7 linked regions of the Homo sapiens genome follow. The protein of the gene in region 1 purifies or fractionates together with the protein of each later gene. This does not show direct contact. Each region holds a gene or a part of one and is shown on either strand. Other genes may lie near its edges. The genes, in order: CA14, KIF14, SLC38A7, EXOC7, PEX19, SAAL1 and LTN1.

The links.
Region 2: the proteins of CA14 (region 1) and KIF14 purify together in Homo sapiens (affinity purification with mass spectrometry; 3 studies listed by BioGRID and IntAct, with this or other methods). This does not show direct contact.
Region 3: the proteins of CA14 (region 1) and SLC38A7 purify together in Homo sapiens (affinity purification with mass spectrometry; 2 studies listed by BioGRID and IntAct, with this or other methods). This does not show direct contact.
Region 4: the proteins of CA14 (region 1) and EXOC7 purify together in Homo sapiens (affinity purification with mass spectrometry; 3 studies listed by BioGRID and IntAct, with this or other methods). This does not show direct contact.
Region 5: the proteins of CA14 (region 1) and PEX19 purify together in Homo sapiens (affinity purification with mass spectrometry; 3 studies listed by BioGRID and IntAct, with this or other methods). This does not show direct contact.
Region 6: the proteins of CA14 (region 1) and SAAL1 purify together in Homo sapiens (affinity purification with mass spectrometry; 3 studies listed by BioGRID and IntAct, with this or other methods). This does not show direct contact.
Region 7: the proteins of CA14 (region 1) and LTN1 purify together in Homo sapiens (affinity purification with mass spectrometry; 3 studies listed by BioGRID and IntAct, with this or other methods). This does not show direct contact.

The regions. Positions count from the first base shown.
Region 1 is NC_000001.11:150,260,306-150,263,784, forward strand, and holds part of CA14 (carbonic anhydrase 14 precursor), read left to right. Parts: intron 1-1,153; coding exon 1,154-1,333; intron 1,334-1,388; exon of another isoform or gene 1,389-1,492; intron 1,493-1,852; coding exon 1,853-1,995; intron 1,996-2,219; coding exon 2,220-2,315; intron 2,316-2,498; coding exon 2,499-2,565; intron 2,566-2,736; coding exon 2,737-2,894; intron 2,895-2,993; coding exon 2,994-3,114; intron 3,115-3,353; coding exon 3,354-3,374; intron 3,375-3,479. UniProt on the Homo sapiens protein: Reversible hydration of carbon dioxide.
Region 2 is NC_000001.11:200,550,669-200,555,497, forward strand, and holds the end of KIF14 (kinesin-like protein KIF14), read right to left. Parts: intron 4,787-4,829; coding exon 4,712-4,786; intron 3,939-4,711; coding exon 3,800-3,938; intron 3,100-3,799; coding exon 2,720-3,099; 3' UTR 832-2,719; downstream 1-831. UniProt on the Homo sapiens protein: Microtubule motor protein that binds to microtubules with high affinity through each tubulin heterodimer and has an ATPase activity. Plays a role in many processes like cell division, cytokinesis and also in cell proliferation and apoptosis.
Region 3 is NC_000016.10:58,677,823-58,682,399, reverse strand, and holds part of SLC38A7 (sodium-coupled neutral amino acid transporter 7), read left to right. Parts: intron 1-2,158; 5' UTR 2,159-2,273; coding exon 2,274-2,543; intron 2,544-3,505; coding exon 3,506-3,704; intron 3,705-3,925; coding exon 3,926-4,067; intron 4,068-4,577. UniProt on the Homo sapiens protein: Symporter that selectively cotransports sodium ions and amino acids, such as L-glutamine and L-asparagine from the lysosome into the cytoplasm and may participates in mTORC1 activation. The transport activity requires an acidic lysosomal lumen.
Region 4 is NC_000017.11:76,089,590-76,094,166, forward strand, and holds part of EXOC7 (exocyst complex component 7), read right to left. Parts: intron 1,647-4,577; coding exon 1,554-1,646; intron 893-1,553; coding exon of another isoform or gene 740-892; intron 583-739; coding exon of another isoform or gene 455-582; exon of another isoform or gene 153-454; coding exon of another isoform or gene 86-152; intron 1-85. UniProt on the Homo sapiens protein: Component of the exocyst complex involved in the docking of exocytic vesicles with fusion sites on the plasma membrane.
Region 5 is NC_000001.11:160,278,184-160,282,173, forward strand, and holds part of PEX19 (peroxisomal biogenesis factor 19), read right to left. Parts: coding exon 3,856-3,990; intron 2,064-3,855; coding exon 1,887-2,063; intron 1,663-1,886; coding exon 1,618-1,662; intron 1,452-1,617; coding exon 1,368-1,451; 3' UTR 1-1,367. UniProt on the Homo sapiens protein: Necessary for early peroxisomal biogenesis. Acts both as a cytosolic chaperone and as an import receptor for peroxisomal membrane proteins (PMPs).
Region 6 is NC_000011.10:18,095,268-18,099,844, reverse strand, and holds part of SAAL1 (protein SAAL1), read left to right. Parts: intron 1-2,990; coding exon 2,991-3,074; intron 3,075-4,577. UniProt on the Homo sapiens protein: Plays a role in promoting the proliferation of synovial fibroblasts in response to pro-inflammatory stimuli.
Region 7 is NC_000021.9:28,927,026-28,931,219, reverse strand, and holds the end of LTN1 (E3 ubiquitin-protein ligase listerin), read left to right. Parts: coding exon 1-65; intron 66-709; coding exon 710-772; 3' UTR 773-3,076; downstream 3,077-4,194.

The sequences.
Region 1 (3,479 bases):
TGCCTTGAGTTTCACATATATGGCTCCTAGATCCTGCTCTAATCATCAAATCCTACACCTCCTGATTTGGCAGAAAAGCTAGTTAAGTCCTCAGTAAATCGTGTAGGAGTGAGGGAGCTGGGGTGGAAAGGAAGCTGGGTGGGAACTCTGAGCTTAGCTGCCAGGTCTCCTTCTGGCTCCGTCTATCCTAATCCATCCTACCCCTAACCTGCATCTGAAATTGGGACAGAGCTGGAGGTCAGGGGTGAGGAAGAGGCTGGCAGGATAGTTTCTGACCCTGGGGGAGGTGGAACTCAGTTCCTATGAACTACTGATTAATGACTTAACCAAACTCAAGTTCATGATAAACGGTCAGTGTGAGAGCAAGAAGTGAATGATGAGAAGTCAGGATATCTGAATCCCAAGGCCACTTGATAGGGGCCTCCAGGAGACCGTATCTCTCTAGGTTATTTTTTTTTTTTTTTTTTTTTTTGACACAGAGTCTTGCTCTGTCACCCAGGCTGGAGTGCAGTGGCGCAATCTGGGCTCACTGCAAACTCCACCTCCTGGGTTTAAGTGATTCTCCTGCCTCAGCTTCTCGAGTAGCTGGGATTACAGGTGCCCACCACCACGTCTGGCTAATTTTTGCATTTTTAGTAGAGATGGGGTTTCACCATGTTGGCCAGGCTGGTCTCGAACTCCTGACCTCAAGCGATCCACCTGCCTCGGCCTCCCAAAGTGCTGGGATTACAGGCATGAGCCACTGTGCCTGGCCTATCTAGGATCATTTTATTTCTCCCATTTTTCTACTCCTACTCTCTAATCCCATCTCTCAGGGTATTCAGGTTTTCTATGCATCCCCTCTGCCCTCATTCAGCTTTCTTGTCCTCAAAATACAGGTAAGTAAAAGAGCTACCACTCCCCATTCATCAGGATAGTTGGGGAATCATCACTGCCTCTGGGTAGGGAAGGGGAACTGCAGCATGAGACTCAACAGGACTCCTACCTCACCCATCCCTATACAACTGGGGTCTTAACCTGGGTGGAGGGAAGTCCATTTCTACCTCCACACAGATGTATGGCTTGGTTAGGGGAAGGGTCAAAGGGAGGGGGTGCTGTTGAAGGGTAGCTAGAGCTGGAGGACAGGACCAATGTCTTTGGTAACCCCCACCAGGCCCACATGGTCAGGACCATTGGCCAGCCTCTTACCCTGAGTGTGGAAACAATGCCCAGTCGCCCATCGATATTCAGACAGACAGTGTGACATTTGACCCTGATTTGCCTGCTCTGCAGCCCCACGGATATGACCAGCCTGGCACCGAGCCTTTGGACCTGCACAACAATGGCCACACAGGTAAAAGCACAGGCTCCAAGGAGTTGTAGGCTCCAGCTCAGATCTTAGGAGTCAGATCCTTTTGTAGTTCATGGGCATGATGATGGGGTGTTCCTGAGCATGCGTAAGATGTGCCGCCCTCAAATCTTGTCAAGATGTTGGCACATTACCCATCTGACATAAATAAACAAACAAATAACCTCAGGAGTCAGAGGAAAGCAGCATTTTCCTAACCTACGAATTCTCAAAAACCTTTGTCCATGAATTTGGAGATATGAGAATGGGGATCAGGATCCTGTAGCCAAAGCGGGAATCGAAATGTTTATAACCAAGCTCAGTAGGTAGGTATCATTGCACTGACTTGGTCTTCACCAAGAAAAAGGAAGATATGCTAGAAAAGCACTGGCCTATGGGAGGAACTGGGTGCTACTGGGGGAGAAAACTGGAAGAGGGCCAAGTCTCCCAAGAAGTGGTGGCAACCCAGGAGTGGGAATGTATCCACATGCCTCCACCAATCCGAGTTTGCTCTTTTCCTCACAGTGCAACTCTCTCTGCCCTCTACCCTGTATCTGGGTGGACTTCCCCGAAAATATGTAGCTGCCCAGCTCCACCTGCACTGGGGTCAGAAAGGATCCCCAGGGGGGTCAGAACACCAGATCAACAGTGAAGCCACATTTGCAGAGGTACCAGGGAACAAAGAGCTGGGACTCAGACAAAGTAACAGGGATGGGTGGTCCTGGGGAAAGGATCTGGACCTTAGGAAAAGTCATGCTGGGGGGATAAGGCCAATCTCTGAGGGACAGACTTAGTGCCTGCCGGGGACAGCGGGGGGATGGTGGCAGCTAGGATCAAGGCCTTGAAGGGGGTGCAGACATTCCATGATTCAATTCCCTCTTCCTTCCTTTAGCTCCACATTGTACATTATGACTCTGATTCCTATGACAGCTTGAGTGAGGCTGCTGAGAGGCCTCAGGGCCTGGCTGTCCTGGGCATCCTAATTGAGGTCAGTAGCCCCCAGTCCCTTCCAGGTTTCTCTCCACTTCCTCTGCAACCCTCAAACCTATTTCTGTTGCTGGCCTCCTTCCTATGGCAGGCAGCAGCCCACCCTGACCATTTATTCTGTACATAAATTTCTTATTCCAAACATGGACTCATTCCAAACTCTCTCCCTTTCCTTCTCTTCCAGGTGGGTGAGACTAAGAATATAGCTTATGAACACATTCTGAGTCACTTGCATGAAGTCAGGCATAAAGGTGAGCCTTAAAAATCTATAGCAGGAAGTAAGATTAGACTTTCAAAAACTATCCTTAAAAGCCTTGGGATGAAGCAATTACATAGAGCCAAGGAATTTTGCTTCTGGGAGCCCTATCTAGGTAAGCTAGGGCACACTGAAAGGAAGATGAGTCCCAGTCTGTTCTCCCCAGATCAGAAGACCTCAGTGCCTCCCTTCAACCTAAGAGAGCTGCTCCCCAAACAGCTGGGGCAGTACTTCCGCTACAATGGCTCGCTCACAACTCCCCCTTGCTACCAGAGTGTGCTCTGGACAGTTTTTTATAGAAGGTCCCAGATTTCAATGGAACAGGTAAGTGGTGGAGAAACGAGGTGAGGTGAGACACAGTTGTAACTTCAGACCCCTTCCCACTCCCCAAAGTAACACCTCTCCCACGCTTCTGCTCCTCAGCTGGAAAAGCTTCAGGGGACATTGTTCTCCACAGAAGAGGAGCCCTCTAAGCTTCTGGTACAGAACTACCGAGCCCTTCAGCCTCTCAATCAGCGCATGGTCTTTGCTTCTTTCATCCAAGGTGATTCTGCACGGCTCAGAAGAGATGGGAAACTGAGGGGGACACAATGGCAGGAACTAGGGAGCCAATGGGAAGAAAAGGCTAAAAGGGGAGGGGGTTTCTGGGACTTGCTTGGACTGGGAACCAACCCCCACCCCAGGGTGCCCCCGGGGGATTCTCCCAGGCACAGCAGCAGAGAGTGCTGCTCCCAGCTGGGATGGGGATCTGAAGTCCCACTGACCCATTTTCTTCTCTTACAGCAGGATCCTCGTATACCACAGGTAAGCCAGCCTTATAAGATAATGCGGGGAGGGGAGGTGTCCTCACCGAGTGGGGGAAAGGCTCAAAATCTATGTTAGTCCTAGGCTGACACCTTTTACCTTTAT
Region 2 (4,829 bases), about 50 Mb from region 1:
TTCTTACTTTCCATATTTAGGGAAAACCTTGAAATGCTTATTGGCACATAGTTAGGCTCTGTAAACTCAAGTATGCTAGTTAGCTAACTAGACAAAACAGCCTTTTGCTAAAACTTTCAGATGGACTGACTCCATGGAGGACACATAGCACATTATACCTTAAGAGCAGTAAGATAATGTTTAGTTATCTTTATTGTCCATTTATTATCATGGAACAAAATGACGGCAGATATATTTTCAGGTATGCCATAAAGGACTGCAATACAATTTGGCACATTGGCAGAATGTTATAAATGGCATATGCCTGCACCAAGTGTGATCTTATATACATAACAAGGGTTTTGTAGCTGGTAATGAAAAGGACAGAAAATAAATTCACTAACAGTCTACTACTTGCCAGCAGTTATTCCCACATTTTTCTCACTAAGTGCTCATAGATAGATAGTCCATGAGGTGGGTATTACTTTTCTTTCTGCAGATGAAGGAATGGGAGTGAAGACAGTAACATGTCTAAGGTCATGTAGTTACTAAGCAGTCCAGCTGGGATTCACACTCCAAACGTGTGAAAAATATGTCAAACTCCAAAGCTCATGCTCTTTACACATACCACATGGTGATAAATCTATTCCAGGCATAATCAACTAAAGAGAGGCAGAACAATGTTAAAAAAAAATAGTTGTTATGGCAATATTAATATTTGTTTAGTGTTTCCTAATTATTAACTTGATTTGCAACACTAGCCTAGCTATTATCAAGGCAGAGCTATTCTGAATGAAGAGTAAAATAAACAAAGAAAATCAGTAAAATAAAAAAGCATAGACCACGAAGCAATTCTAATGCTGAAAAGATTTATTAAAGGCATTCTCTTTATAACATTTCTTGTCAGTGCACATAATTCCAATAGCAAATATTTTTTCACCATTCATTCAAATACAGTATCACAATGTGTTTAGTATAAATATGTATACAAAATTTTATAAAGACACTAAAAAGTTTCTGACCAATTAAGTCATGAGTTTACAAAGCACAAACTGAAGATTAAATACTGAATATTAAGATGAAAACTACTATACAGGTACTTTAGGAAGTTCTTCAAAGAAGTGCACCTCCCGGGAAATCCTCATATGTACATCTACACTCCAGCAAACTGCACAGGCAAAGTGCTACTTGCCAGATTATTGACTAATAAAAACACATATAGAGCTTCAGAAAGAATACAAGGTCAAATGCCAAAAATAAAAAAAGAAATGAAAGCAAATGTGCTACATTGTACCATTTTAAAGAGCTTGAAAACACCACACAAGGTTCACTAATACTGTTCTGACTGCAATGACTGTATTTACTTACAATCTCTTCCTAACAAGGAAACTATCAGATTTATTCATGGTACGAATGGCCAATTTCAACTAGTTATGCCAAATGTACAAGTAGTATCTGTAAATTCGAAAAGGGCAAATGAAAGGATCAGGTTATTTAAATGAATTCTTCTTTTTTTTTCTTCTTTTTTTTTAAATGAATTATTCTTTAGGAACTGCTCAATATCACCCAAGCATAGTTACAAAGTATCTCTTCAAATTATACATACTCTTGAGGTCAAAAACGTCAAACTATTTCCGTAATGTAAGATCCCACAAGTAGAATATTATCTTTATTACTTGATCATAAATAAAGGTTTTTTTTTAAAGCTGTGGAAAATAAGGGTCTTTAATCTTCATCAAATCATATACAAATTATTTCATTATACCTTTAACAAAACAAGCATTATCAAGAGAAGGTCCAGCCTCTGATCTCCTAATCTCATCCAACAGTTTAGTATAATTCTGGCAACATTTTATTAGTTTTAAATAATATTCATACAGCCCCCATTATGAAACACAGATAACAGGGTAAACTACTGTGCCAGCAAGCCATATTATTAATATATAATTATACTATATTTAGGTAGCTACTTATAATTTGGAAAGAAACAGGAAGCTACACCCTTGAACATACTATTCAAAATGGCAACCAGTTAACCCTTTGAGAAAAGAATTTTTGATTAACAATGCAAGTTAAGTTGTCTTAGTTAAACTTGTACAGGCCATTTCACCATAAACATCCCAGCTGTCTGAGGAGAGAGAAGGCATAGGCACAAAGGTAACTGATTGTTCAGGTTTCCACTCATGAGAAAATAACCCTTTATAAACGACTAATGAACCAACTACAGACAGTATACCAATGTTAAACACTTTAAAGATAAAAATATATTTTATTTATTTATTTATTTATTTATTTATTTATTTATTTATTTATTTTGACTAAGTCTCGTTCTGTTGCTCAGACTGGAGTAAAGTGGCATGATCTTGGCTCACTGCAACCTCTGCCTCTCAGGTTCAAGCGATCCTCCTGCCTCAGCCCCCCTAGTAGCTGGGATTACAGGCACGCGCCACCATGCCCAGCAAATTTTTGTATTTTTAGTAGAGACGGGGTTTCGCCATGTTGGCCAGGCCGGTCTCAAACTCCTGACCTTGTGATCTGCCCGCCTCCCAAAGTGCTGGGATTACAGGCGTGAGCCACTGTGTCTGGCCTTTGATAAATAGATATTTTAAAGATAAAAAGACATGGACTTTTTTGAAATATCTGTGCTGATTTCTCTTAAACTCTCCTGCATAAAGAAAATTACCGAGCAAGTGTTCTTTTTCTTTCATGGGTGGTCATAAAAGTGCCTACACATCAGTATTCACACCCACTGAATCCTACTGGGTGTGCATTCCTCTGAGCTCACTGCTGGGGATGAGCCATGGAGCTCATAGACACGCTTTGGTACACCTTTATTCTTACTGCCGTCAATCCCGCTTGATTTAGATTGTTGGTGTTCTTCTTTGGTATTTTGATTATAAGTTTCCCAGGGTTTCAACAAATCAGGGCTTTCTTCAGATTCAAAACAAAAGAGGAGAGACTTAGCTAGAGATTCTAGTTCCTGGTGGACAATGTGAGTTACTCTACTCTCATAGCTGCCAACAGAAGTAGAAGGCACACTGAAGTCACTGTAAAAATCACTGGCCAAGTTGCGAATACTTTCAACACAAGTCTGGAGAAGATTTATATCACTATGGCATCCTATATGCAAGAGAGGAGGGAAAAGTTAATTAGCCTTTTCAGTTTTCATCAGGTATTTATGACTTTTATAGACTCTAGATATCTTTTAAGTCAAAGTGACCCTATCAAAACAATTCCAAACTACTTAAGATTAGTCAACTAAAGTGTTTATTTGCTAGATGAGCACTTGGTTTTTCAGGATCTAATTATTTAGGTAGAAGTACTGATACATACATTAAGTGGGAATTTAATTATAAATACAAGTTCCTATATGGGTAACTAATATCAGTGAAGTAGCATTGGGTAGGCTTCAGTTAATGACTAAAATAATGAAAAGGTTAGAAATAAAAAGGAAAGATGTCAGCCGGGGACTGTGGCTCATGCCTGTAATCCCAGCACTTTGGGAGGCCAAGGTGGGTGAATTGTTTGAGGTCAGGAGTTCGAGACCAGCCTGGCCAACATGGTGAAACCCCATCTCTACTAAAAATACAAAAATTATCCAGGCATGGTGGCATATGCCTGTAATCCCAGCTACTTGGGAGGCTGAGGCAGGAGAATCGCTTGAACCCAGGAGTCGGAGGTTGCAGTGAGCTGAAATCGAGCCACTGCACTCCAGCCTGAGTGACAGAGCGAGACTCCATCTCAAAAAAAAAAAGGAAAGATGTCTAAGGTTCCTTAAAATATAAAATTCTGATTATAAACTCCATTTGGAGAATCATACCTTTCAGTGCAGAAATAATAATTTCAATAGCTTTCTCTAAGCAATGTTTTAACTTTAAGAATTCTGGAGCACGATTAACCATCCTCTTGAAATCTTGGTATTCAAAGTTTTCTTCTTGTACTTGCCTTCTGAAACTTTTCTGTATAAATAAAGTTAATATTTAAAATAATACATTAACAGGCTCAATGGCAGTAAGGCTCAGTCAATATGATTTTAATTGCCAGAATCTTCTCTTTAAGAAAGAGAGTTTAATTTCCTCACCAGTGCTTAACTCTATTTCTATAAGCAAGACCAAAATACAATAGTAATTACTGTTTTCAAAAGAAATCAGAATTTTCAATTAATTTTCAAAGTCTGTCATCCTATTACATGAGAATGGAATAAAGTAACAGTGCCATTTATTATTCAATACTTTAAAAGATACATTTATTTCATTTTTAAGAGCTCAACTTTATAATAGTTCTCATTTATTTAAATAAAAATTTTCAAGCCATAGCAATTACTCTCCTTTTTAACACATTGATCATATACTTAATTTTTCTCTTTACCTGTGACATGGGAATAATCTATCTAATTCAACTGTATTTTAAAATCTTTGAGCACAATGATTATTAAACACAATTTTTTAGCCTATAATGACCCATCCAAGCAAAAGCTGACAGTTATTAAACCAGTAGCAATAAGAAACAGACATATTAATAAATTTCTATACAATCCTTTATCCACTACTAGAACTAGTAAGTTATGACACACATAAAAAAGACAAAGAGCTATCTTACATGCTACAATTAGACATATACAAAAGAGTTGTCTCTGGCTAAGGATAAACACTGAAATAAAAATATCTACATTTGAACCAAGTGAAATGATAAAAAATAAGCAAAATTAAAATCAATTTAAAGCTTCTCTTACAATTTTCGATTCAGCAAAGATGTTTTCAAGAGATCTAATCAATCCCATGGCATTAGTTTTCATTTCTTTGGTAACCTATAGAGAATGTTAAAATATTTTATTATACTTTATTATTCAG
Region 3 (4,577 bases), on another chromosome or scaffold:
AGGAATGAGGAGACTCTAGGAGAAGGAGTCTTTGGCAGATTTCGCCAGCCTGGGTGGTAACCAGCTAATAGCAGCCTCTGGGGAAGACTGCCCTGGCTCCTCCCTGCCCCCTTAGTTCCTGCCCTTGAAATCTGGCCTTCTTCCTGCTCTTTCTCCCATTAGCTATCCCAGGGCCTCTGTGCCCATTGTTACCTGGCCAATAGCACCAGGCTGTGGTTTGAGTTTTGTTTGTTTGTTTGTTTTGAGATAGAGTCTCACTCTGTCGCCCAGACTGGAGTGCAGTGGCGTGATCTGGGCTCACTGCAAACTCTGTCTCCTAATTTCGGGCGATTCTCCTGCCTCAGCCTCCTGCACAGCTGGGATTACAGGGGTGCACCACCACACCTGGCTAATTTTTGTATTTTTAGTAGAGATGGGGTTTCACCATGTTGGCCAGGCTGGTCTCAAACTCCTGACCCCAGGTGATCTGCCCACCTCGACCTCTCAAAGTGCTGGAATTACAGATGTGAGCCACCACACCCGGCCCAGGCTCTGGTTTTGATCAGTGTTCTGCTCCCTGCTTGCTTAGGGCTGGAGAGTCTCAGGCATGGTGGTGGTGGGCAACATGGGAAGGGGCATCTGCAGAAATAACAGCAGCAGTGACCATTTATTGAGTCTTAAACCCTTACTGATATTAACACACGACCCACAGGAACATATGATGTAAAGGCCTAAAGGGGCGAAGTGACTTGCCCAGGGTCACACAGATAGGCAGCGGAGGAGTCAGCATTCTGACGGCAGAACCTACTCGGAGACCCAGATCACAGCCCTGCCCAGGGCTGCTCTTGATCTGGGGGTGGACTTGATGCTTTAGGACCATCATTTCTCTGCGGGTCTCAGGCTATGAGCTGAACCTTGAGAACACTGAAGATCCTTTTTCAGGGCTGGGCTCCTCAGAGCCTCTCGAGATTCTTGGAAGAAAAAAAACTGCATCTCAATTGTGTTTATCCAGAGAGCAAAGAGAATCAGTCAGGTGATAAGCCTGTTATCTGAGTTCTGCCATACCCAAGGTACCATCTTGGACCCAGGAGTGGGGCAGATACAAACAGATGGATGCCCTATGGTCAGACAGGCCTGGGTTTGAATCCCAGCTCCACCACTGACCGCCATATGACTGAGGGGAGAGTGGTTATCCCCTCTGGGATTCAGCTTCCTCTTTGGTAAAATGGTGACTGTCATGTCTACCTTTTAGGGCTGCATTGAGGATTGAATGAGAAAGCATTCCATAGCTGCAGCAATAGTGGTTTATAGTGACAAACAGCACTGCATGTTTGGCACTGATCATTGTAATCTAGCCCAGGAAAGCAAGCCTAGTGGCCAGTGAGATGCTAGCACATGAGAGAGTACTGAGAAGAAACCAGCTAGAGTGGTTCTGGGCCCCTACATGGCTCCAAGAAGAGCTCAGTGAGTGACCCAGGAAATGGGGAAGAAATAGGACCTAAAAGGGTGGCGGCAAAGGAGTTGGGAGCATTAGAAGCATGGGATGAATCACTGTTTTCCTGAAGACGCAAACATGACAGGCATGGGGGCTTGTCACATGAGAGAAGAGTCGAGAATTGGCCTGAATTTCGAAGGGCCTCGAAAGCCACAGAATTCAGACTCCAGGCCACCGGGAGGCGTGCTGGACTGTAATATGTTGAATCTCAGTTCTTGGTAAGGGGTCCTTTTGGGACCCTGTGGGGTGGAAACAGGCTGGGAAGCCAGACAGATCTGGATCCAAATCCTGCTATGCAACTTGCTAATATATGACCCTGGGTCAGTGATGGGATCTCTCCGAACCTTTTGACCACAAGACCATCCTAAGGATTGAATGAGATAAAGTATATCCATGACACACCTGCCCGATGCGGGGCCTCTATCGAGTGCTGATGTGTTAGTACCCATTTTATGTTGACATCTAACTGGTCCATTGAGTCTGTATGCCTGAAGCAAGCATGATTTGCACCTGATCTGTTTCTGTGTCTGTCTCCCCATACTCTGGCACCCAGTGCACTGTCTGCACAGAGGCATACCTGGGTTTGGACCCTACCCATGTGATCTTGGGAAAGTTATTACACCTTTTTGTCCCCTAGTTCCCCCATCTTAGGATAACAGTAGTGCCTGCCTTTGTCCCATCTAGGTTGAGAAGAGTCCTAAGCTAACAGCCCCAAACAGGTGGGTGTTGCTCAGCTCCCTGAGGCATGTGGTTGTAAGGCAGAACCCACAGACCTTGCAGGAAGAAGGCTCTCGGGGCCATGGCCCAGGTCAGCATCAACAATGACTACAGCGAGTGGGACTTGAGCACGGATGCCGGGGAGCGGGCTCGGCTGCTGCAGAGTCCCTGTGTGGACACAGCCCCCAAGAGTGAGTGGGAAGCCTCTCCTGGGGGTCTGGACAGAGGCACCACTTCCACACTTGGGGCCATCTTCATCGTCGTCAACGCGTGCCTGGGTGCAGGGTTACTCAACTTCCCAGCAGCCTTCAGCACTGCGGGGGGCGTGGCAGCAGGCATCGCACTGCAGATGGTGAGTGCACTGGCCGGGAGGGCAGAGGTGCAGTTCAGTTGGGCGCTTTGCCTCAAAAGGGAGGCTTCGGGTCAGGGATGGCCAGTAAGTGATACACGCACTGCTCTCCCCTCCCTCACACATGGCAGACATGACTAATCTATTCTAGTATTCTTTCCTGTGACCCAAATGAGGCTTCAGAAGCCTTCCAACAATCAGAGAAATTTGAACATCAATTACATCTCTAATTTTTTAGGTGTAACATTGATTTTGTGGTATGTTTAAAAAGAGGGCCCTTATCTTTTAGAACTACATACTGAAATATTTATTGATGAAATGATATGATAGCTTATATTGGCTTCACAATAAATGCAGAGTGGGAGGGAAGGGGAATGATGAAACAAGTTGGCCATGCATTGATCATTTTTGAAGCTGAGTGATGGATACATGCCAGTTCTTTTTACTATTCTCTTTACTTTTTTCTTTGAGATGGAGTCTTGCTTTGTCACCCAGGCTGGAGTGCAGTGGCCCGATCTCGGCTTACTGCAGCCTCTGCCTCCCAGTTTCAAGTGATTCTCCTGCCTCAGCCTCCCAAGTCGCTGGCATTACAGGCACCCACCACCATGCCCAGCTAATTTTTGTATTTTTAGTAGAGACGGGGTTTTACCATGTTGGCCAGGCTGGTCTCAAACTCCTGACTTCAAGTGATCCTCCTGCCTCAGCCTCCCAAAGTGCTGGGATTACAGGCATGAGCCATCGCATCCAGCCTATTCTCTTTACTTTTGTATGTTGGCAATTTTTCAAAAAACTTTTTGTTTTTAAAGAAAATCTCAACTCGGCATCCTCTAGCAGTCTCTTAAAATTGCCTTTGTGAGATTTGCCAAGCTTGCTTTGGGCACTGGCCCAGTAAATGCTAGGCGAGCCCAGGGTGCCCTCTGCTGCCAGGCCTTTGCCACAAGCTCTTGTTCTGCCTCTGCCTGCAGGGTATGCTGGTTTTCATCATCAGTGGCCTTGTCATCCTGGCCTACTGCTCCCAGGCCAGCAATGAGAGGACCTACCAGGAGGTGGTATGGGCTGTGTGTGGCAAGCTGACAGGTGTGCTATGTGAGGTGGCCATCGCTGTCTACACCTTTGGCACCTGCATTGCCTTCCTAATCATCATTGGCGACCAGCAGGACAAGAGTGAGCTTCTCCCTCAGTCCCTACCCCATCTCTTCTTATCAGCCCCAGGGATCCTGGGGTGGAGGGAAAAGGCACTGAACACCTCTCCAGGACTTACCTGGGCCCAGCATTCATCTGGGAATCCTCCCTCCAGGCAGAGGGAGGTCCTGGGGCCCAGCAGAGCAGGAGGGCCACACCCCATGGTGGCCTGGCTTGACATTCCCTCCTTCCTCCCTGTGCAGTTATAGCTGTGATGGCGAAAGAGCCGGAGGGGGCCAGCGGCCCTTGGTACACAGACCGCAAGTTCACCATCAGCCTCACTGCCTTCCTCTTCATCCTGCCCCTCTCCATCCCCAGGGAGATTGGTTTCCAGAAATATGCCAGGTTTGGAGGCCCCAGCCTGGGTCAGACAGAAGCTATGATCCTGGGCAGCTGTAGACCCAAGGGCTCCTGGGGAACCCTGCTCCTCCATGCCACCTCACCTTGGGGAGCAAGAGTAGGCAAGGCAGGGCAGACCGGGGCTTGCAGGGTTTCAGATAAGACCATCCTTTTCTGTCTCCATCATAGAAAAAGGATGCATCCATGAGAGATTCAGTTCTAAATGTCCTTTTGCATCCATGAGTAGTTCAGTTCTAAGTGCCCTTGTCAAAGAAGGAACAGGTGGTATCTGGGCGGTGAAGGCAGCCTCCTGGCATTCCCTGGGAGGAATTTGGGTCTTTGAGACTGTCAGCCTACCAGCATCTTACCTGCAGCTTGGCATGAAGGAAGGAGACTGGTTTCCTGTCTCGGTGTCTGAAAGGCTGTGGGATTCTAGGCTTCCCCGTCTGTAAGTGCAGGGGCCATGCTCCGCTCTCTCCAAGGCTCCCATAAATGTTGACACAAAAGTGTCTGTAC
Region 4 (4,577 bases), on another chromosome or scaffold:
GATGGAAAGATAAGGAGGGAAGATTCCTGAATCAGCGTCCTGGATAAGGTGGTTTGACCCCAGGACTGAGCATTCTGAGTTGTACCTGAAAGAGGGCAGCCCAGGGTGGGCAGGTGGCTGTGCCACCTCAAGGAGGCTGGCACTGGGGTCATCCATGTGGGCAAATGCGGGGCCTGTGAAGGAAGTGACCAGCCCAGTCAGGGCTTCTGGAACATCTAAGAGGGTGGTTGGCTGCAGCTTCTGAGGCTGGCTGGCATGGGGTCAAAATCTAAGAGGCTGGTAAGTCCCAGAGAGGAGGGGTTGCCAGCTGCCCCAGGAGGAGGCCAGACCCTATTACTGGAGGCCACGGCGGGGGCGCCTGCAGGCAAAACCGGCGGCAGAACTGCCTGGTCCTATGTGCCAAGGGATGGGCTCCGAGGGGATCAGAGCTCTGAATTGTTGCAGGAGGCGGACGTCAGGGCTCCCTGCCCTCAAGGGAGCCACCTTCCCTCTCTGCCTGCTTTCCGAGGAGCAGCGGCTTCTCCCCTTGGCCCAGGCCTGACAGACAGGCACGCACTCCCATCTGGAGAGAGGCAAGGAGACCTAGGCCCAAAAGAGAGAGAGTGGAGAGAGAGGCGCATAGGCCTGGCCCATCCTCAGAGCAGAGTGGGCCCAGCTGGGCCAGGCAGGAGCAGGCCATCCGGGGACCGCTGCGAAGGCAGTGTCAGCGGCTGCCCTCGGGCTGGGCTGCGGTACTCACCGGCCAGCGGCCCGTGCTTGTCGTTCAAGGCCTCGGACAGGTGCTTAACTCGGAAATCATGCTCGTGACCTGGCGAGATGTCGGCCGCACAAACACAAGCAGCGTTTATCCAGGGGCCAGGCAGGCCGCCCCTTGGGGTACAGGGAAGAAGCCCTTCATCTCCAGGAGGGGGACGTCAGATGGGGATGGGGAAGGGGGCATCGGAGAGGGCCCTGAGCCCCTCCTCTACCTCAAGCCACCTTGGGAACAGCCGTTTCAAGCCTGACTTCAGTGAGCACCCAGGACCGTCCTTAGCTGCTCATTTCCCCGAGCCTGGAGGCCCAGGGAAAGCGGAGAAGGACCAAGGAGGGGCTGAAGAGCTGATGCTTGGCCCCAGGGGGGTTCCCCACCTCGCTGTATTTGGGGAAAGCCCCAGTTTGCCTGTCCTCTGCTGCACACACTCCCCTTTCTAAAGATGGGAAGGCCGGGAGGCCTCGGCCAGCTGGGGCCTGCCACTGCTGGTCTGAGCGTGAAAGGGCTGCCCCAAGACAAATAACTTTTTCTGAGTTCACACAGGAGACAAGGACAGAGACAGGGAAGGGAGGAGGGAAGCCTCAGGGAGGGCAGAGCTGCCATCAGCCAGAGAGGACCAGGCCGAGGGCTGCGAAACTGTCCCTGTGCCCGCTGAAGCCCGAGTGGCATCGGGGACCTGCCGTTCCCACCCTGCTCCCCTCAGGGTTTCTCCCGAGGCCCTCCTGGGGGAGGCTCTGCCCTGCCAAGTGCGTGGACACACAGTGGAGGAGGAAGGGACAGGAGGGGAACACAGGGTGATTACCTTCCAGAGGAATGAGGTTAGAGCCCCCCTTTTTCCCATCTAGACCATGCTGGGAATACTGTTTCAGAAGGTTCTGAGCCTTACGGATCGTCCCTGTCACCAGAGCCACACAGAGAGGAGATAAGAAGACCTAGGAAATGAGTGAGAGAAAACAGCAGCGGCCCTCCACCTGCCCCCCAGGCCCCGCACCCAGCTCCCCAACAGTGAGCAGGCCTTTCCCTGAGACCACCAGAGACGCTGGGGACAAGGATGAAGGAAAGGAGTCATTTCCTTCTCCAAATGGAGCCTTGATTCTACTACCGACCCTCCTTGTTCTGGATTTCAGCTCATTTCTGAAAGGACAGAGGGTAATGAAGATGGACCAAGATCCACCAGGAGAAGTCAAAAATATGGAGTGGCATCATAATCAGAACAGGCGAGGGCTCAGGTCGGAGGAGCCCGTGACAAAGCTCGCATACCCAGAGGGCACAACCAGGGTGGGAGAGCCTGGGGGGCACCCTGAAGCCAGCAGGCCCCCAGCCCAGCCCCAAACTCCAGGCAGAGTTCTCCGAGCATGCTCAGTGTTGGGACGTACGCCAAACAGCAGCCAGCAGGAAGCCACCCTGACTGAACTTCCGGGGGAGCGCTGTGCCCAAGGCGGACGGCTCAGAGACCCAGAGGCAGCCTAGCCCCACACCAGAGTTCCCCAAACCACCAAAGCGACAAGAAAAAATCCAAAAGTCAAGAAGGGGTTAACAGAAGCCACCACACAGAGCGCCTGGAGGGTGTGCACGGAAGGAGAGGGCACATGCTCTTGGCATGGGGGAGAAAAACAATAGTTAGTATCACAAGTGAAAACAATGAGAACAAAATGGCAGCACCCACAGCCGCCTGGGTCAGCCTCCTTTGTGGGAATGAGACATCTCGGGCCAGAAGACGTCGGGAAATCAACTCGCATCTCAAGCAGACAAGTGCAGCTGCCTTGTTAACAAAATGTATAGGGGCAGAAAGGCACCCGGGATGCCTCCCACCCCCACAGTCTATCTGAGCACAGTGAGGCTGCTGTGTCCTGGCAGCTCCCCAGAAAGCTGAGGGAGAAAGGGGCAGTGTCTGGAGGCTCACTGCTTACACCTGCACCGCACCGCACCGCACAACACCACAATTAGCTTGTTTTTTTTTTTTTTTTTTTTTTTGAGACAGTCTCACTCTGTCGCCCAGGCTGGAGTACGGTGGCACGACCTCGGCTCACTGCAACCTCTGCCTCCTGGGTTCAAGTGATTCTCCTGCCTCAGCCTCCCAGGTAGCTGGGATTATAGGCGTGCGTCACCACACCCAACTAATTTTTTTTCTATTTTTAGTAGAGACAGGGTTTCACCATGTTGGCCAGGCTGGTCTCGAACTCCTGACCTCAGGTGATCCGCCCGCCTCGGCCTCCCGAAGTGCTAGGATTACAGGCGTGAGCCACCATACTTGGCCCATAATTAGCTCCTAATAACCAAGGCCTGGCTCACGTCTCCCTTGCTCATGCTCTCCCCTTCAGCGAGTGCGGCTTACTAATGAGTGAATCTGATTCCTGCCCCACAACCCACCAGGAGCAGACACAGACGCAGGTGCACGCCGGCAGGATGTGGGTCGCCGATGTGGATCTAGCAGCCGCCAAACCCGTCAGGCTCCCAATTGCCTCCAGGGATGCTGAGGTCGGTGCTTCACCACCTGGGAGGCCTCCCTGTCCCTCTCCTCAGAAGTGGGAACCGACATCCCCAGAGCCTGACTCCCTAGAGCCTGACATCGGTCCTGAGCCCACCAGTTCCTGACAACTCTGAAACCCCACAGCTGGAGTTTTCCTCTAGTGTCTCTGGCCCAAGGATGGATGTGGTCCACTGTGAGCCACCTGAGATCAGATCCCTCCTGCCTGAAAGGCCAGGTAGCTGCATGGCCAGCGGGCACTCTTAAGGCAGTGCAAATAGGGCTCTGGGGCTTCTGGGGGACCTGTCAGGGAGCCAGGCAGAAGAGGAAGCAAGCACAGACTGGCTGGGGCCCAAGCATCCTAGCAGCCTCATAGAGACAGCCACTCCCCACCACACAGAAGGCACAGAGCTGCTCCATCCACTGTGCAGGCAGCTGCGCCCACAGGCTGGGCTGGCAGTCCCCATTTGCAGCAGGTTTTGGCTGGTGGGCAGGATTTCCACACTGGAGGGAGAAGGCCCCAGGCACCAGCTCCCTAATGCTCTACTCCCTGAGGGCAGCCCCTGCTCTGCCTGTTTCTCCAAACCCTAAACAAAGGCCTGCAGGGGAGCGGGTGCTCTTGTGGAACAGACACCTCACTCTCTGAGGGGCATGAGCAGGCAGGGACTGGAGAAACCAAGGGTGTAAGTAAGCTCTACCCAAAGCTTGTTGTCATAAGCAGGTGCCACAGGCCACAACTAGGGCATGTGCCCACAGCAGCAGCTGGACAGGGGGCCAGCCTGGGTGGGAGCAGCCCCGGCTTCTCCAGCTTTCTTTTTCAGTGCAATCTCAGCAGCCCCACCCCAGAACATCCCAGCACATCATCGAGCTGCGGGCAGCATCTCTCAGTGGCCAGACATAGCCGGGCTTGCCAAGCTGTGGCTGGCAGAGACACTGTTTACCTGGAGCACAGACTATAAGGGATATGATGCCGGGGAGAAAGAACAGACAGATGACGAGATGTTCACCCAGGACAGCAACACCCACCGGCCCCGGCCTCTCATCATGGTGCCCCTTTCCACAAGTCACTCGCTCGCACTGGAGCCCAAAGCCAGTTTAAGTTCTTCCGAGAGGATGCTCTGGGGTTTCTTTCCTTTCTGGATCAACTGGGAAAGTGAAATTCTCCCCATCCAGCTCTCAGCTACACGTCACTTCAGATCACCCTGCCTTTCTGGAAGGTGAAGGTTGGAGCACCTATCCCCTTGCTATCCCAGCATCCTGGCTGCAGTAGTGTGCCTGGCCTTCTGACAGGGCGACGTGTGTGTGAGGGAGGAGGCCTAGGCAGGGGCTCTGCCTCAGGCGGGATTCGCTGAGCACCTG
Region 5 (3,990 bases), about 10 Mb from region 1:
CACGTCAGCTTAAAGAAAAATAATTTAGAAAACATAACAATATATTACTAACATTAATAACAATAATGTAAAAGGTTAAAATATAATACCACTTGAAGGGCTTTCTACATTGAAATACTCAAGGGAACATGAGGAAAGATGGCCATCCAGTCTCCTTTGCCAACTGAGGTGCAGACTGAGTTGTGGAAGGTGGGTGTTGATGGAACCCAGCATTACAATATTGTGTAGAACTAGTCTCCTAATATACCTCACTCTGCAACTTACGGAAGCTGAGGAAGATCAGAAAAAGACCACACTCCTCACTCAGAATATTTATTATATTCTGCCCCATGGGGCCTTGCAGGAAAAGGGACCCAAGCTATACCCCTACTCCTTTTCCAAGCTACTTTCCTGAACCAAGGGACAGGATTCTAAGAGAATCATGTATCTCAAATAAGCCAGAATGTATCTGGGGAAGAATAGCCATTAATTTCCTAGACCTGACACTGGGTTTATTTGTGTCTGCCAGGAAGACGGGGAGTCAGTGAGAATCGTAAATGGACTAGATGAGGGGAAATAGGATGGGCCCTTCTTTATCACAGCTTGAGCTCAAAAAGGTTGGGATAAACAGGTGTTTAAAAAAGAGAGGAGGTAAAAGGGAGGATGGGCAGGGGATAGAGGAAGGTCAGGGGCTGGGTTCACCCATATCACACAGCATTGTAGGAAGAAGCAGGGTAACCATTTGAGTTCTCAGCCTGGAACAGGGAGGTGAGGGCTCAGCACCTAGAGAGAGGAGAATCCTAAGGCCTCTCTTTCAACTCTATTGTGATTAGATGCAAAAGCCCTTTCCCTTTAGAGAATTCAGAATGGTCTGTCTGAAGGCAAGAGAGCATAGTGACAGACCTGTAGCCCCAGCCCAGGCTGTTTCTCCCCATTCTCAAAGGCTCTGCCAGGAGAACTATAGAAATACAGAGTCCCAGGTCTCTGCCCCTCCTCCCCAGATCCAAGAGAGGGAGTAGAGACAAGGCACAAAGACCCTGGACGTAAAGGTGAACATCAGTGTGGCCACATATAACATTATTTTGAGAAAGGAAAGAAAGTGCATGCCCCAAAAGGGATGCCTTCCTTCACCTTGCAGGTAGCTGGAACTTTGATAGTGGCAGAAACCACAATGGAGTAGGGTTCACAGAAATGGCCTGTGAAACAGACCCTATTCCTAGAGAGACAGAGGAAAAACCTCAGCTGGTATGGCACAATCTTGAATGGGATGACAGAGGGCAGCGGGCAGACTTCTCCCGCAGGTGACACTCCTGCCTCAGGTCCCAATGGTTCTGCTGACTCCAGATGTTCCCCATAGCTGGGACTCAGAGAGGAAAACGTGTTGTGTTTCACATGATCAGACACTGTTCACCACTGGCACCTGGTGGGCCCGAAAGATTGAGGGCATCCAGGTCAAAGTTGAGGCCAGGAGGCTGGGGAAGAGATGAAGGGACTCAGATAGTTGCTCATTTTTTAGGACAGACGTGAAGATCCATCCCCAGTAGCCACAATTTTCACCTTAGGTGGAATCCTGAGAGGTTAAAGAATTCTGGAAATTGGGGACTCAAATTAAAATCTGGAAAAATAAGACATACTCACCATCTCTCCAGCCAGCTCTTTTGGAGGATGGCCTAAATCTTGTAGCTAGAAAATAAGGAAAATGGAACATGAAATAGAGAAAAGCCCAGAAAACAACAGAGGATCCAGAAGAGGAATCTAATGAATGATCTCTCTATTTCTTCTGAGAGAGATCACAAGAGAGGATCCCTCCTCCACCTAGGTCTAGCAGTATTGCATCCTTCCCAGATACTTCCTTCACTGAACACCTAAGTGGACAGCACCAGTGGGCAGAAGGCAAGAGGCCTTACCTGCTGCATAAGATCCAGCACCATCTCAAAACGAGCCTTTTGAGTGGTTTCACTGTCTGTGGGGGTCTCTGCCTCAAACTGCTCACATATTTTGCACATGACGCTGTGCTGCTCCTGATATTTTTCAAACTGCTCTGGAGGTAGAGATTCCCGATGACTCTGCAACCATTCTGGATACTAAGAAAAGAGAGAATGGGTGGAAAAGAATTAAGTGAACAATGGATATGGATGGGTAATCAGAACAATGTGATTAAAATGTGAAAGGGAAAGGGACGTAGAAAAACGAAAAGCTAAATAAGTAAGTTCATCATGAAAAGCGGCACTGACTCCAACCAGATCACCTGGCCATGTTAGCATTTATGGTCACCAGAGATTGGTAAGCTTCTGTAAAGGGCCAGACAGTGAATATTTTAGGCTTCAAGGGCCACATATGGTCTCTATTGTGTTTTTTTTTTCTTTTTTTTCGAGACAGAGTTTTACTCTGTCACCCAGGCTGGAGTGTGATGGTGTGATCACCACTCACTGCAGCCTCGATCTCCCCAGGCTCAAGCAATCCTCCCACCTGAGCCTCCCCAAGTAGCTGGGTCTACAAGTGTGCACCACTGTGACTGGCTAATTTTTTTGTATTTTGTAGAGACAGGGTTTCATCATGTTGCTCAAGCTGGTCTTAAACTCCTGGGCTCAAGCAATCTGTCCACCGTGGCCTCCCAAAGCGCTGGGACTATAGGAGTGAGCCACTACGCTCGGCTATTGCACATTTTCTTTGTAGTTTTTTTCAAATGACCTTAAAAATGTAAAAACCATTATTTGCTAGAGAGTTGGATTTGTCCCACCCAGGTCTTGGCCTGCTGACTCGTGGTCTGTACTATTCATTACACACTTACCCACATTTCCCCATGTCACTGAAAAGCTTCTATTCCTGTATTTTATCTCTCCAGTAAAACTATACACTCTTTAGCCAGGTGTGGTGGCTCACACTTGTAATCCCAGCATTTTGGGAGGCTGAGGTGGGAGGATCACTTGAGCTCAGGAGTTTGAGACCAGCCTGAGCAATATAGTGAGAGCTCAACTCTACAAAAAATTTTGAAAACATTGGCCAAGCATGGTGGCACACACCTGTAGTCCCAGCCACTCAGGAGGCTGAGATGGGAGAAACACTTGAGCCTGGGATGGGGAGGCTGTGGTGAGCCAAGATCGTGCCACTGTGCTCCAACTGGAGCTAGACCCTGTCTCAAAACAAAATGATACAACCACACATATAAGCTCTTTTATGGCAGGGACCATCATTTAAACTACGCTTACACTGTTCACATCACAAAGCCAGTAAGTAAATCCTCAGTTAATTCTTTTTCTTTTTCAGATGGAGTCTTGCTCTGTCACCCAGGCCGGAGTACAGTGGCACAATCTCAGCTCACTGCAACCTCTGCCTCCCAGGTTCAAGTGATTCTCCTGCTGCCTCCTGAGTAGTTGCGATCACAGGCGTGAGCCACTACGCCAGGATAATTTTTGTATTTTTACTACAGACGGGGTTTCACCATGTTGGCCAGGCTGGTCTCGAACTCCTGACCTCAGGTGATCCACCCGCCTCGGCCTCCCAAGGTGCTGGGATTACAGGCATGAGCCACCATGCCCAGCCAAATTCTTGCTGGAGAAATGAAGTCAGAAATGCAAGATTGATCAGACAACAATCCCAGAGTCTTGAACCAGTTTATAGAAAACTAGAACTGAAGGATTTCCTCTTAGACCCCAAACGTTATACCTCTTATACCCCAACATACCGTGTGACAGCTTTATTCTCTCAGAGACACAACTCTCCCCAACCCCCAACTCTCCCTGCCTCAAATAAATAAAGAAGGAAAAAAAGCACACTCGAGTTACTCTTTCTGCAGGCTCTGAGTAGACAAAATAGCCCACATCAGTTGATGTGATGGAAAATGAAGAGAAAAAGCAGAAATGGAAGTTCACAAACCTTTTCTGTGATCTCCTTCAGTGATGGGTACAGCACATCCTTGGAGAGTAGGTTCTGCATAATACTCTGCATGATGGGGAGGATGTTCCCTTCCCCATCCCCTTCGTCCATGCCTAGCCCCTCCATGGCCTTGGT
Region 6 (4,577 bases), on another chromosome or scaffold:
ACCAGAGACCTCCAGATACTTCCTGCACTTTCACGTGTCCATGGGCACTATTCATGCCGCTCTGCTTAGAATGGCTTCCAGCTGGCAAAATCCTTCTCATTGTTTATGGCCCGGCTTCAATGTCACCTCCTCTGTGATGCCACCCCAGACACTCCAGTCAGAATTAACCTGTCTTGTTTTGGTGTTCCCACAGAATTGCTTCACTCTGTTACATGTGTCCTCTGATGGATTTAAATTCCTTCTCATCAAAGCATAATGTCACCCCTTCTGAAATGCCTTCTTTTCAATGTCATGTCTAAAGTAGCCCGCTTTATCTTGGTTTCTAGCACATATCTTATTTTCTTTGTAGCATTTAGAAATTGTGTAGTTTAGTTGTTTTATATTTATTGTTTGTTCATTTCTTTAGAATGAAAATTCCATGGGACTGAGCCCTTATTTAGCTTGTTCACTGATGTATCCCCAGAACCTAAAACAGTGCCTATTAGGTTTTTCAGAAAATATTTGGGGAGTAATGAATGAATAGATGAATACCTGAGAGGTAGCATGTTGTGCTGGTTAAGAACATAGTCTCGCTGGGTACTTGCCTGTATTCCCAGCTATTTGGGAGGCTGAGGCAGGAGGATCACTTGAGCCCAGTAGTTGGAGGCTGCAGTGAGCTATGATAATGCCTGTGAATCTGTGAATAGCCACTGCTCCAGTATGGACAGGATAGCAAGACCCCCATCTCTTTTAAAAAACAAGACCATAGGCTCAAATCAGACTCATGGGTTCAAATCCTAGCTTTGCTCTGCTGAGACTGTATAATCTTGGGCAGGTTGCTACACTTTTTAAACTTCAGTTTGCTTATGAGTGTAATGGGGCTAACAATGATAACTAGTTGATAGAGTTGTTTTGAGAATTAAATGAGATAGCATGCAAGCCACTTCACTGTGCCTGGCATTTAATACTTGTTCAATGAATGTTAATTTTATTACTGTTGGTGTTGATATTGTTAGGCCACCCTTGTGCTACTCCAGGAATTACCATTAAATTTAAAAATTTCTGCATGTGGCAAAGAATTGCCCACAGGACAGCTTGATCACTTACAGTGAAGAGAATCTGCCATTATGACTTTCAGTTTAGAGTGTATCTTTGAAAATACTATTTTCTCTGACCATGGTCCTTTAGTAAGTAGAGTGTGTCTCTCTCAGTCAGTTGTCTGGCAGGTTACTGGTTTCACTTGCTGTGGAGAATAATTGCCTGTCTCTTTGAGATGTTCCAGGGCCCTTAATTTTCACATAAGCCATGCAGCTTATATTTTAAGTTAAGGCTTCTCAAATACACACCTCACATTTAGTGAAAATCTGAAGCAGTGGACAGCCAGAGACTTAATTTTATTTATATATTTTACATTGCAGGTCCCCAAGCAAACTGACTTAGCTTTTGTGTCTTACATTCCTAGGTGAGATTTGGCTCATTTGGGGCCACATGTCCACTCACATGTCACCTGTGTGTTACGCCCCTTTAGGCACTGTGGCAGACTCTGTAGGAAGAAGTTATGAGGCTGCCACAGTTACATTGTGATCAGAATTTTTATTCTATTGATGATTTTGAAAACACAAATTCTGGTTTTGGACAGGACCCAATAGCAGTTCTTGACTTCTTTCCCCTACCGTGTTTTAAGCTCTTGGAGGACAAGAAGGAATTTTGTTTTTGTTTGAGACAAAGTCTCACTCTGTCGCCCAGGCTAGAGTGCAGTGGCGAGATCTCAGCTCACTGCACCCTCTGCCTCACGGGTTCAAGCAATCCTTCCACCTCAGCCTCCTGAGTAGGTGGGACTACAGATGGTACACCACCATGCCCAGCTAATTTTTGTATTGTTTGTAGAGATGGCGTTTCACTATGTTTGCCTAGGCTGGTCTCGAACTCCTGGGCTCAAGTGATCCGCCTGTCCTGGCCTCCCAAAGTGTTAGGATTACAGGCGTGAGCCACCTCGCCCAGCCAAGTTTTACCTTTTTTTTTTTTTTCCTTTTTTTCTCGCTGTGTTGCCCAGGCTGGAGTACAGTGGCAAAGTCATGGCTCACTGCAACCTTGAGCTCCCCAGGCTCAAGTGATCCTCCCACCTCAACCTCCCAAGTAGCTGGGACTGCAGGCATGTGCCACCACACCTGGCTAATTTTCGTATTTTTTGTGGATATGGGTTTTCACTATGTTTGCCCAAGCTGGGCTCAAGTAATCCACCCACCTCGGCCTTCTAACCAGCCTCCCAAAGTGTTAGGATTACAGGTGTGAACCACTGCGCCCAGCGTGTTGCTTTTTTCCCTTGTCCCCCGCTTCTAGTTTAATACCTGATAGGTAATCACCAAATGTGTTTGAATGTGTTTAATGAGAATTCCTAGTGGGCAGAAAAATTATTAAGGTAAATAGATTCGGGCAGAAAAGAGTGGGATAATCCTCTGGAGTATTGTAGGTAGTTTAGATTTGTTTATGAAATTGTTCCATTGTCTGGGACTAGTTACCATAAAGACTCTCTAACATCACTTTTGTCTGTTGACACAGTTCCTAAGCCTGTGTTTTTTTTTTCTTGTGTCTAAAATTCTAATTTTATTTTATTTTTTTATTTTTTTTGGAGACAGAGTCTCGCTCTGTCACCCAGGCTGGAGTGCAGTGGCGTGATCTCAGCTCACTGCAACCTCTGCCTCCCGGGTTCTAGCGATTCGCCTGCCTCAGCCTCCTGAGTAGCTGGGACTACAGGTGCATGCCGCCATGCCCGGCTAATTTTTTTGTATTTTTAGTAGAGACAGGGTTTCACCGTGTTGCCCAGCTGGTCTTGAACTCCTGAGCTCAGGCAATCTGCCAGCCTTGGCCTCCCAATGTGCTAGGATTACAGGTGTCAGCCACTGCGCCTGGCGTAAAATTCTAATTTTAATATAGAATTTTATGGTTGCCTGAGCTTTAGGGTTTAGGGAGGAATATTCAACATCCAAGTTAATAATCATTTTTCTTTTCAGGACGTGGCTTTATTTCTCCAAGAATTTAATGCTCCTGATATATTCATGGGAGTACTGGCCAAGTCCAAGTGTCCTCGATTAAGAGTAAGTATGTACATTTCTAAAGCCTTCTTCTTTGAAGCAATAAGAACAGATAGTGCTGGATAGTCTTTTATTTTTCTCACTTTGATTTTCTTACTGACCATAAATCAACAAATCAGCCTGTAGATGTTAATTGAACATTGCCAGGTCCTAGGTAATTTGCTATTTAAATTTATTTTATTTTATTTTTGAGACAGGGTCTCACTATGTCTCCAGGGCTTGGAGTGCAGTGGCGTGATCACGGCTCACTGCAGTCTTGACCTCCTGGGCTCAAGGGACCCTCCCACCTCAGCCTCCCAAGTAACTGGGAGTATAGGTGTAAGCCACCACACCCAGCTAATTTTTATTTTTATTTTGTGGAGACAAAGGTCTCCTTATGTTGCCCAGGCTGGTCTTGAACTCCTGGCCTCAAGTGATCCTCCCACCTTGGCCTCCCAAAGTGCTGGGATTATAAGCGTGAGCTAAATGCCTGTAATAATTTAAAATATTAAATTATTAATAATTTAATAATTTAAAATTATGAAAATCATAGAATTTTAGATTCAGGCCGGACCAGGGAAATTAGCACTTTCATTTACCAGCTGTGGAGACGAGTTAGGCATAACCACTGTTATGCTGCTAGTATGTATCAGAACAAGGAACAGAGCCTGGGCCTCCCATTTTTCAGTTGATTTCTCTTTTTTACTGACAAAATCCACCATTGCTTGAAAACCATTCTAAACTCAGCCTGCTGCTTAAGACCTCTACTCTCTGAACCTAACTCATCTTTCCAGCATAAAATCTGGATAGCCAGGTAACCCTTCTGATTTAGCCAGACCTTTCTACTCCCTGTCTCATGCTGTCTCCGTGCCTCCCTTTGTGTGCCTTCTGTCCCCTCTCAGTATTTGCATCTGTTAATTCACAGTGGTACTTTTCCTTCCACACCTTCCCAAGTAAGTAAGTAAGCTTTCAGTAGTCATTGCTGTTAGTAAACTGCCAAGAACAATAGATAAAGACTAAAGGAGAGGCCTTTATATACTGTGCAGTGTACTGTGCTTTATTGCCAATTAAATTGCCATGTGCTATGCATATCATGGATTAGTAAATATCTGTTCAATAATTATAATTATGAAAAACTGCTGTTTACTGAATACCTGGTCTTACTACTATGAGGTATACTTTCAAAGAACTAAATCTTGGGTGAAGATATGTGTTCAGGGTCACACAGCTAGGAAAGAATGGAGCTGAGATTTCAGCCTAGGCCTGACTTCAGTATAACCACTGTACTGTATTTCCTCTCTTTCAGATTATAAAATGGAGAATTCCATAGTGTATTTTTACAAATTGAATGTTGAATTAGAATTCTTATTTAAGTAGAATGTTCTCTCTGAATTAGGGCCTGATTAACCGTTTTTTCCTTGATTCCTTATATTAATATAAGATTTGATGATTATGCTATTTTTATACTGAGTTTTTCTGTCTTAAATATATTTACTCACTACTAGTATATAAAGAAATAAGCTTATG
Region 7 (4,194 bases), on another chromosome or scaffold:
TCAACTATTCCCTTCCCAAAAAAGCCTGTAGAACATGCAAGAAAAAATTCCATTCAGCCTGCTTGGTAAGTCTAAAGAGAAATTAACTTACTTATATTTTATGTATTTTATACACATAAACACACACACACACACACACACACACACACACACCTACACAATGTCTAACTTCGGAAGAGAAAATGTGTGTTAAACTTAATTGTAGCTAATGGGAGATATATTAAAAAGTGATTTTTTAAAATCTGCCAAAGATAATTAGCAGTTTACTGAGACTGGTAGAATCAAGGCCCTCTAATAAATGGGTGTTTCCAGTGACCTTTTACCACTCAAGAAGTAGAAGGTCTTCTGAGATCTAGACCATGAAGGAGAGTACAGGAGTTGGTACTGGAAGCCATCTGGCATCAGAGCCCTGTGCTCTTTTTAAACATACTGAAAAAGAAGTTGCCATTTGTTCATTTGTTTCACAGGAGATTTCTTATATCTTAGTGATTGTGTGCATGAGCCTAAGTAGGAAGAACTTAGTGTAGCCATCGGAAGTAATACTCAATTTGTGTTAATTTTGGAGATAACAGAAAGAGCAAAAATTTTATTGTTCTTCCCTTTTCACTTTATCATTTGAAGGTTACTATAGATGTATGTGTACTTTATGATGTATGTTAGAGGAGAACTTTAAAAGTTCTTTTAGTATTTAAAACCTTTTCTTTTTCAGTACAAATGGTTTACATCTAGCAACAAATCCACTTGTCCACTGTGTCGTGAGACGTTTTTCTGAGATTTTTTTCACTGGAAGGGATCCCTGAAGTACATCAAACAAAGGCATTGGATTTGGATCCGTCTGAAAGTGTGGATGTGGGGAAGCCAGTGAGCATTACTTTTAAATAGGACCTTCTCTGGAAAATTATTTTGGTTAATGTAATAATCCTAAAATCAGGTTTACTTAACTTTAGATTGCTTTGTAAATGTTTGGAAACTTTCTTTTACAAAAGAATATTACATATTTGAGAGAAAATATTTCTATTAATGGTTTAATTTCTTTGTATATTTAAAAATAAATATGAAAAACCCCTAAATTACAGAATTGGAATTTGTGAAAAGATTGCACAACTATATTATTGATAAACCCATTCCGTTTGTTGATCTGTGTTTTAGAATAGTCCAAGTGAAGCAAAACGAACTGAGAGAGCTGATTTACATCTATAGATATTTTAAGCCTTATTTATTAGTTATGACAATAAATTAGTATTCTGATATTTGTAGATTATTTTAATGATAAAAATGACACTAAGCTATTAATACGGCTTGTCTTAAGATATCTGGAGGCATGCTCTGAAATCCTATATAAAAGAGTTTAAACTGAACTTTAAGGTGCCTCCATTTATCAAGGGTTATGAAACTCAGAAAATTAAATTCTTGATGCTGACCTTTTTGCTTGTGGGAGAATTATTTCTATATATTAGTGAAATTTGAATTGTAAACTTGTCAGTGAATTTATCACTCTGAGCGAGTCTCTAGAGGGTGAGAATTTGAGAGAAATAGTAATTTGATTATTTCATTCATGAAGCGGAGTGGTAGTTATCCTTCTATTGAGAGGGAAGAAATAAATGAGTATTACTGAAACTTAAAGATCAGTGGAAAAAAAAAACATTTAAAAATGTTGTAGGAGACTTTCAATTTTGGAAGCAAACTGAGCTATTCTTACCAGCCAAAGTTATACTAAATAAGAGACTTGGGGGAGCAAATGTTTTTCAGCCTTCAGAAATGAAAGTTAAGGATTTTAGCACTAGGTAAAATTCAGTATAATAGGCTGAAGTGGAGTAAGTGAAAACCTGCCTTTTGCCACTCTTAAAAATTGTGCCCAAAATATAAAAGTGTGGAACTTTAGAACTTGGAATAATTTTATTGCAGTCTTCCATTACATGGAAATAGCATATCTAATATCTAGGTTACTTGAGAGACCAGCTAATCATCTCTGTTGCACATGTTTAATTGGCAAAAAGCAATTCATGATAAATAAAATTACTGCTTTCCATCTACTGGGTAAAATGACTATTGAAATAGTATGAATGTGGTCAGAGGATTATAGTTGAGAGTGAAGTACTATGTGTGAGTTATAGATCTCTCGAATTATATTTATAGATGCAGTGTCCTGCCCAGTTTTGTTTGCCTCCTACATTTTACTGTAAAATATTTATTGTCTTCTAGCCTTGAGCCTCTGAGGGTCAGTAAGTGAAGTACAGATAGCAAAATTTTACTACCTCGTTAACCCTTTTCTTAAAATATTCTCTATCTTTCTATGTCTCTTTCTGACATAGTAATCCCAAAGGATTGTGTTACTCCCCGTGAAAGTTATTACTTTTCCTTTAAAAATGGTTTTATAATAAGACTGTTTAAAACCTTTCCAGTATTGGTACATCTTGGCTTCTGGCCCAAACCCCAAGCAGAAAAGAAAATGGAATAATGGAGCATTGTTTTTCCACATTAGTATTAGGGCATCAGATTCTTGGTGAAACACTATAATTAAGTAGTTATAATTAAATAACTGTTCTTCATACTTAGGACTCTTAATACATTTCTTTAAGACTTGTAAGTATAATTGTAAAGCTTGTTAACTGTTTATATACTAAAGAAAAAGCTTTACAAGATAAGACTGAAATTCAGAATACCACATCTGTACAGCGTTGACAACTCTAACTAAAAGGATTACAGCCCTTAAAATTTTAGCTTAAGGACATTTTAAAATTGCATGAGATTAGCAAAATTATTAATTTAAAACCCCAAAGTAAATTGCAAATTTTAAAATTTATTTTTGACTCTTTTATCACATGCTCCAATGTATGTACATAAGTGTCTGTGGCTTAAATAATATGTTGTTATTTGATACATTTTTGTGGTGCAAGTAATTAATGTTATTATTTGATTGTTATACCATATGTGCCCATTAAAATTCTTTTTAATTAAAAATATTTCAAATATGCAGAAAAATAATAATATAAATGCCCTTGTACCCTTCACATACTATTTTGCCATATTTGCTTCTGATTTTTAAATAAATAAAATGTTACTCTTTTGTACTTCTCCCTGGCGCCATTCTCCTCCTTCTTTCCCTAGAGCTAACGTACTAATTCTGAAGTTGGTGTGACTCCTTCCTGTTTAAGATTTTATACTTTACCATGTGTTTTTATCCAGAAACAATGTATAATAGTTAACAAAAATTATGTTAATGATGTTTTATGTATGTAATCTTTTGTAACCTGATTTTCCACTCAACATAATGCTGTTTAGTGTCATATCAGTTTACTTACCAGTTCCCTTACTAAAGATTGTTTAAATTGTTATTTTTTTGCCATTTTGAACAGTGCTGCAAGTGTACATTCTTGATCATGTCACCTCATGCAGATGTGCTAGATATTCTAGACATATGTCTAAAAATGGAATTTCAGCCCGGCACGGTGGCTCACGCCTGTAATCCCAGCACTTTAGGAGGCCGAGGTGGGAGGATCACCTGAGGTCAGGAGTTTGAGACCAGCCTGGCCAACATGGTGAAACCCCGTCTCTAGTAGAAGTAAAAAAAAAATTAGCCAGGCATGGTGGTGTGCACCTGTAATCCCAGCTACTTAGGGAGGTTGCAGTGAGCCCAGATCGTGGCACTGCACTGCAGCTTGGGCAACAGAGCAATCAAGACTCAGTCTGAAAAAAAAAAAAAAAAAAAAAAAAAAATTTTATATATATATATATATATATATAAAATAAATAAAAATGGATTTCCAGGTAGTAGGATGTGTATACTCTGTCACTTTAGATGTCTTCAAATTGCCCTCCAAAGTGATATGCAAGTTTGCTCTCCCAGCTGCAGTTTAAGAGAATTCTGGTTTTCCTATCTTGTCACCAACACGTAGTCTTATCAGAATTTTTAAGTTCTGCAGTCTGAAAGCTATGAGATAGTAGCTCTTTGTTTTAACTTATATTTCCTTAAGAAGCCTAGCTTCATTTCATATATTGGTCATTATTTGACAGATTTTTGTCCATAATCTATACCTATTTTTCTGCTAGGTTACTTGTATTCTTACTGATCATAATGCTTTAGCTCATAGGACTTCTAATATGTGGCTTGTCTTTAACATTTTCTGTGACTATCTTTAATCTCACAGAATTTTTCGGTTAAATTTAATCAGACCTTTTTTTTTTTCTTTTATG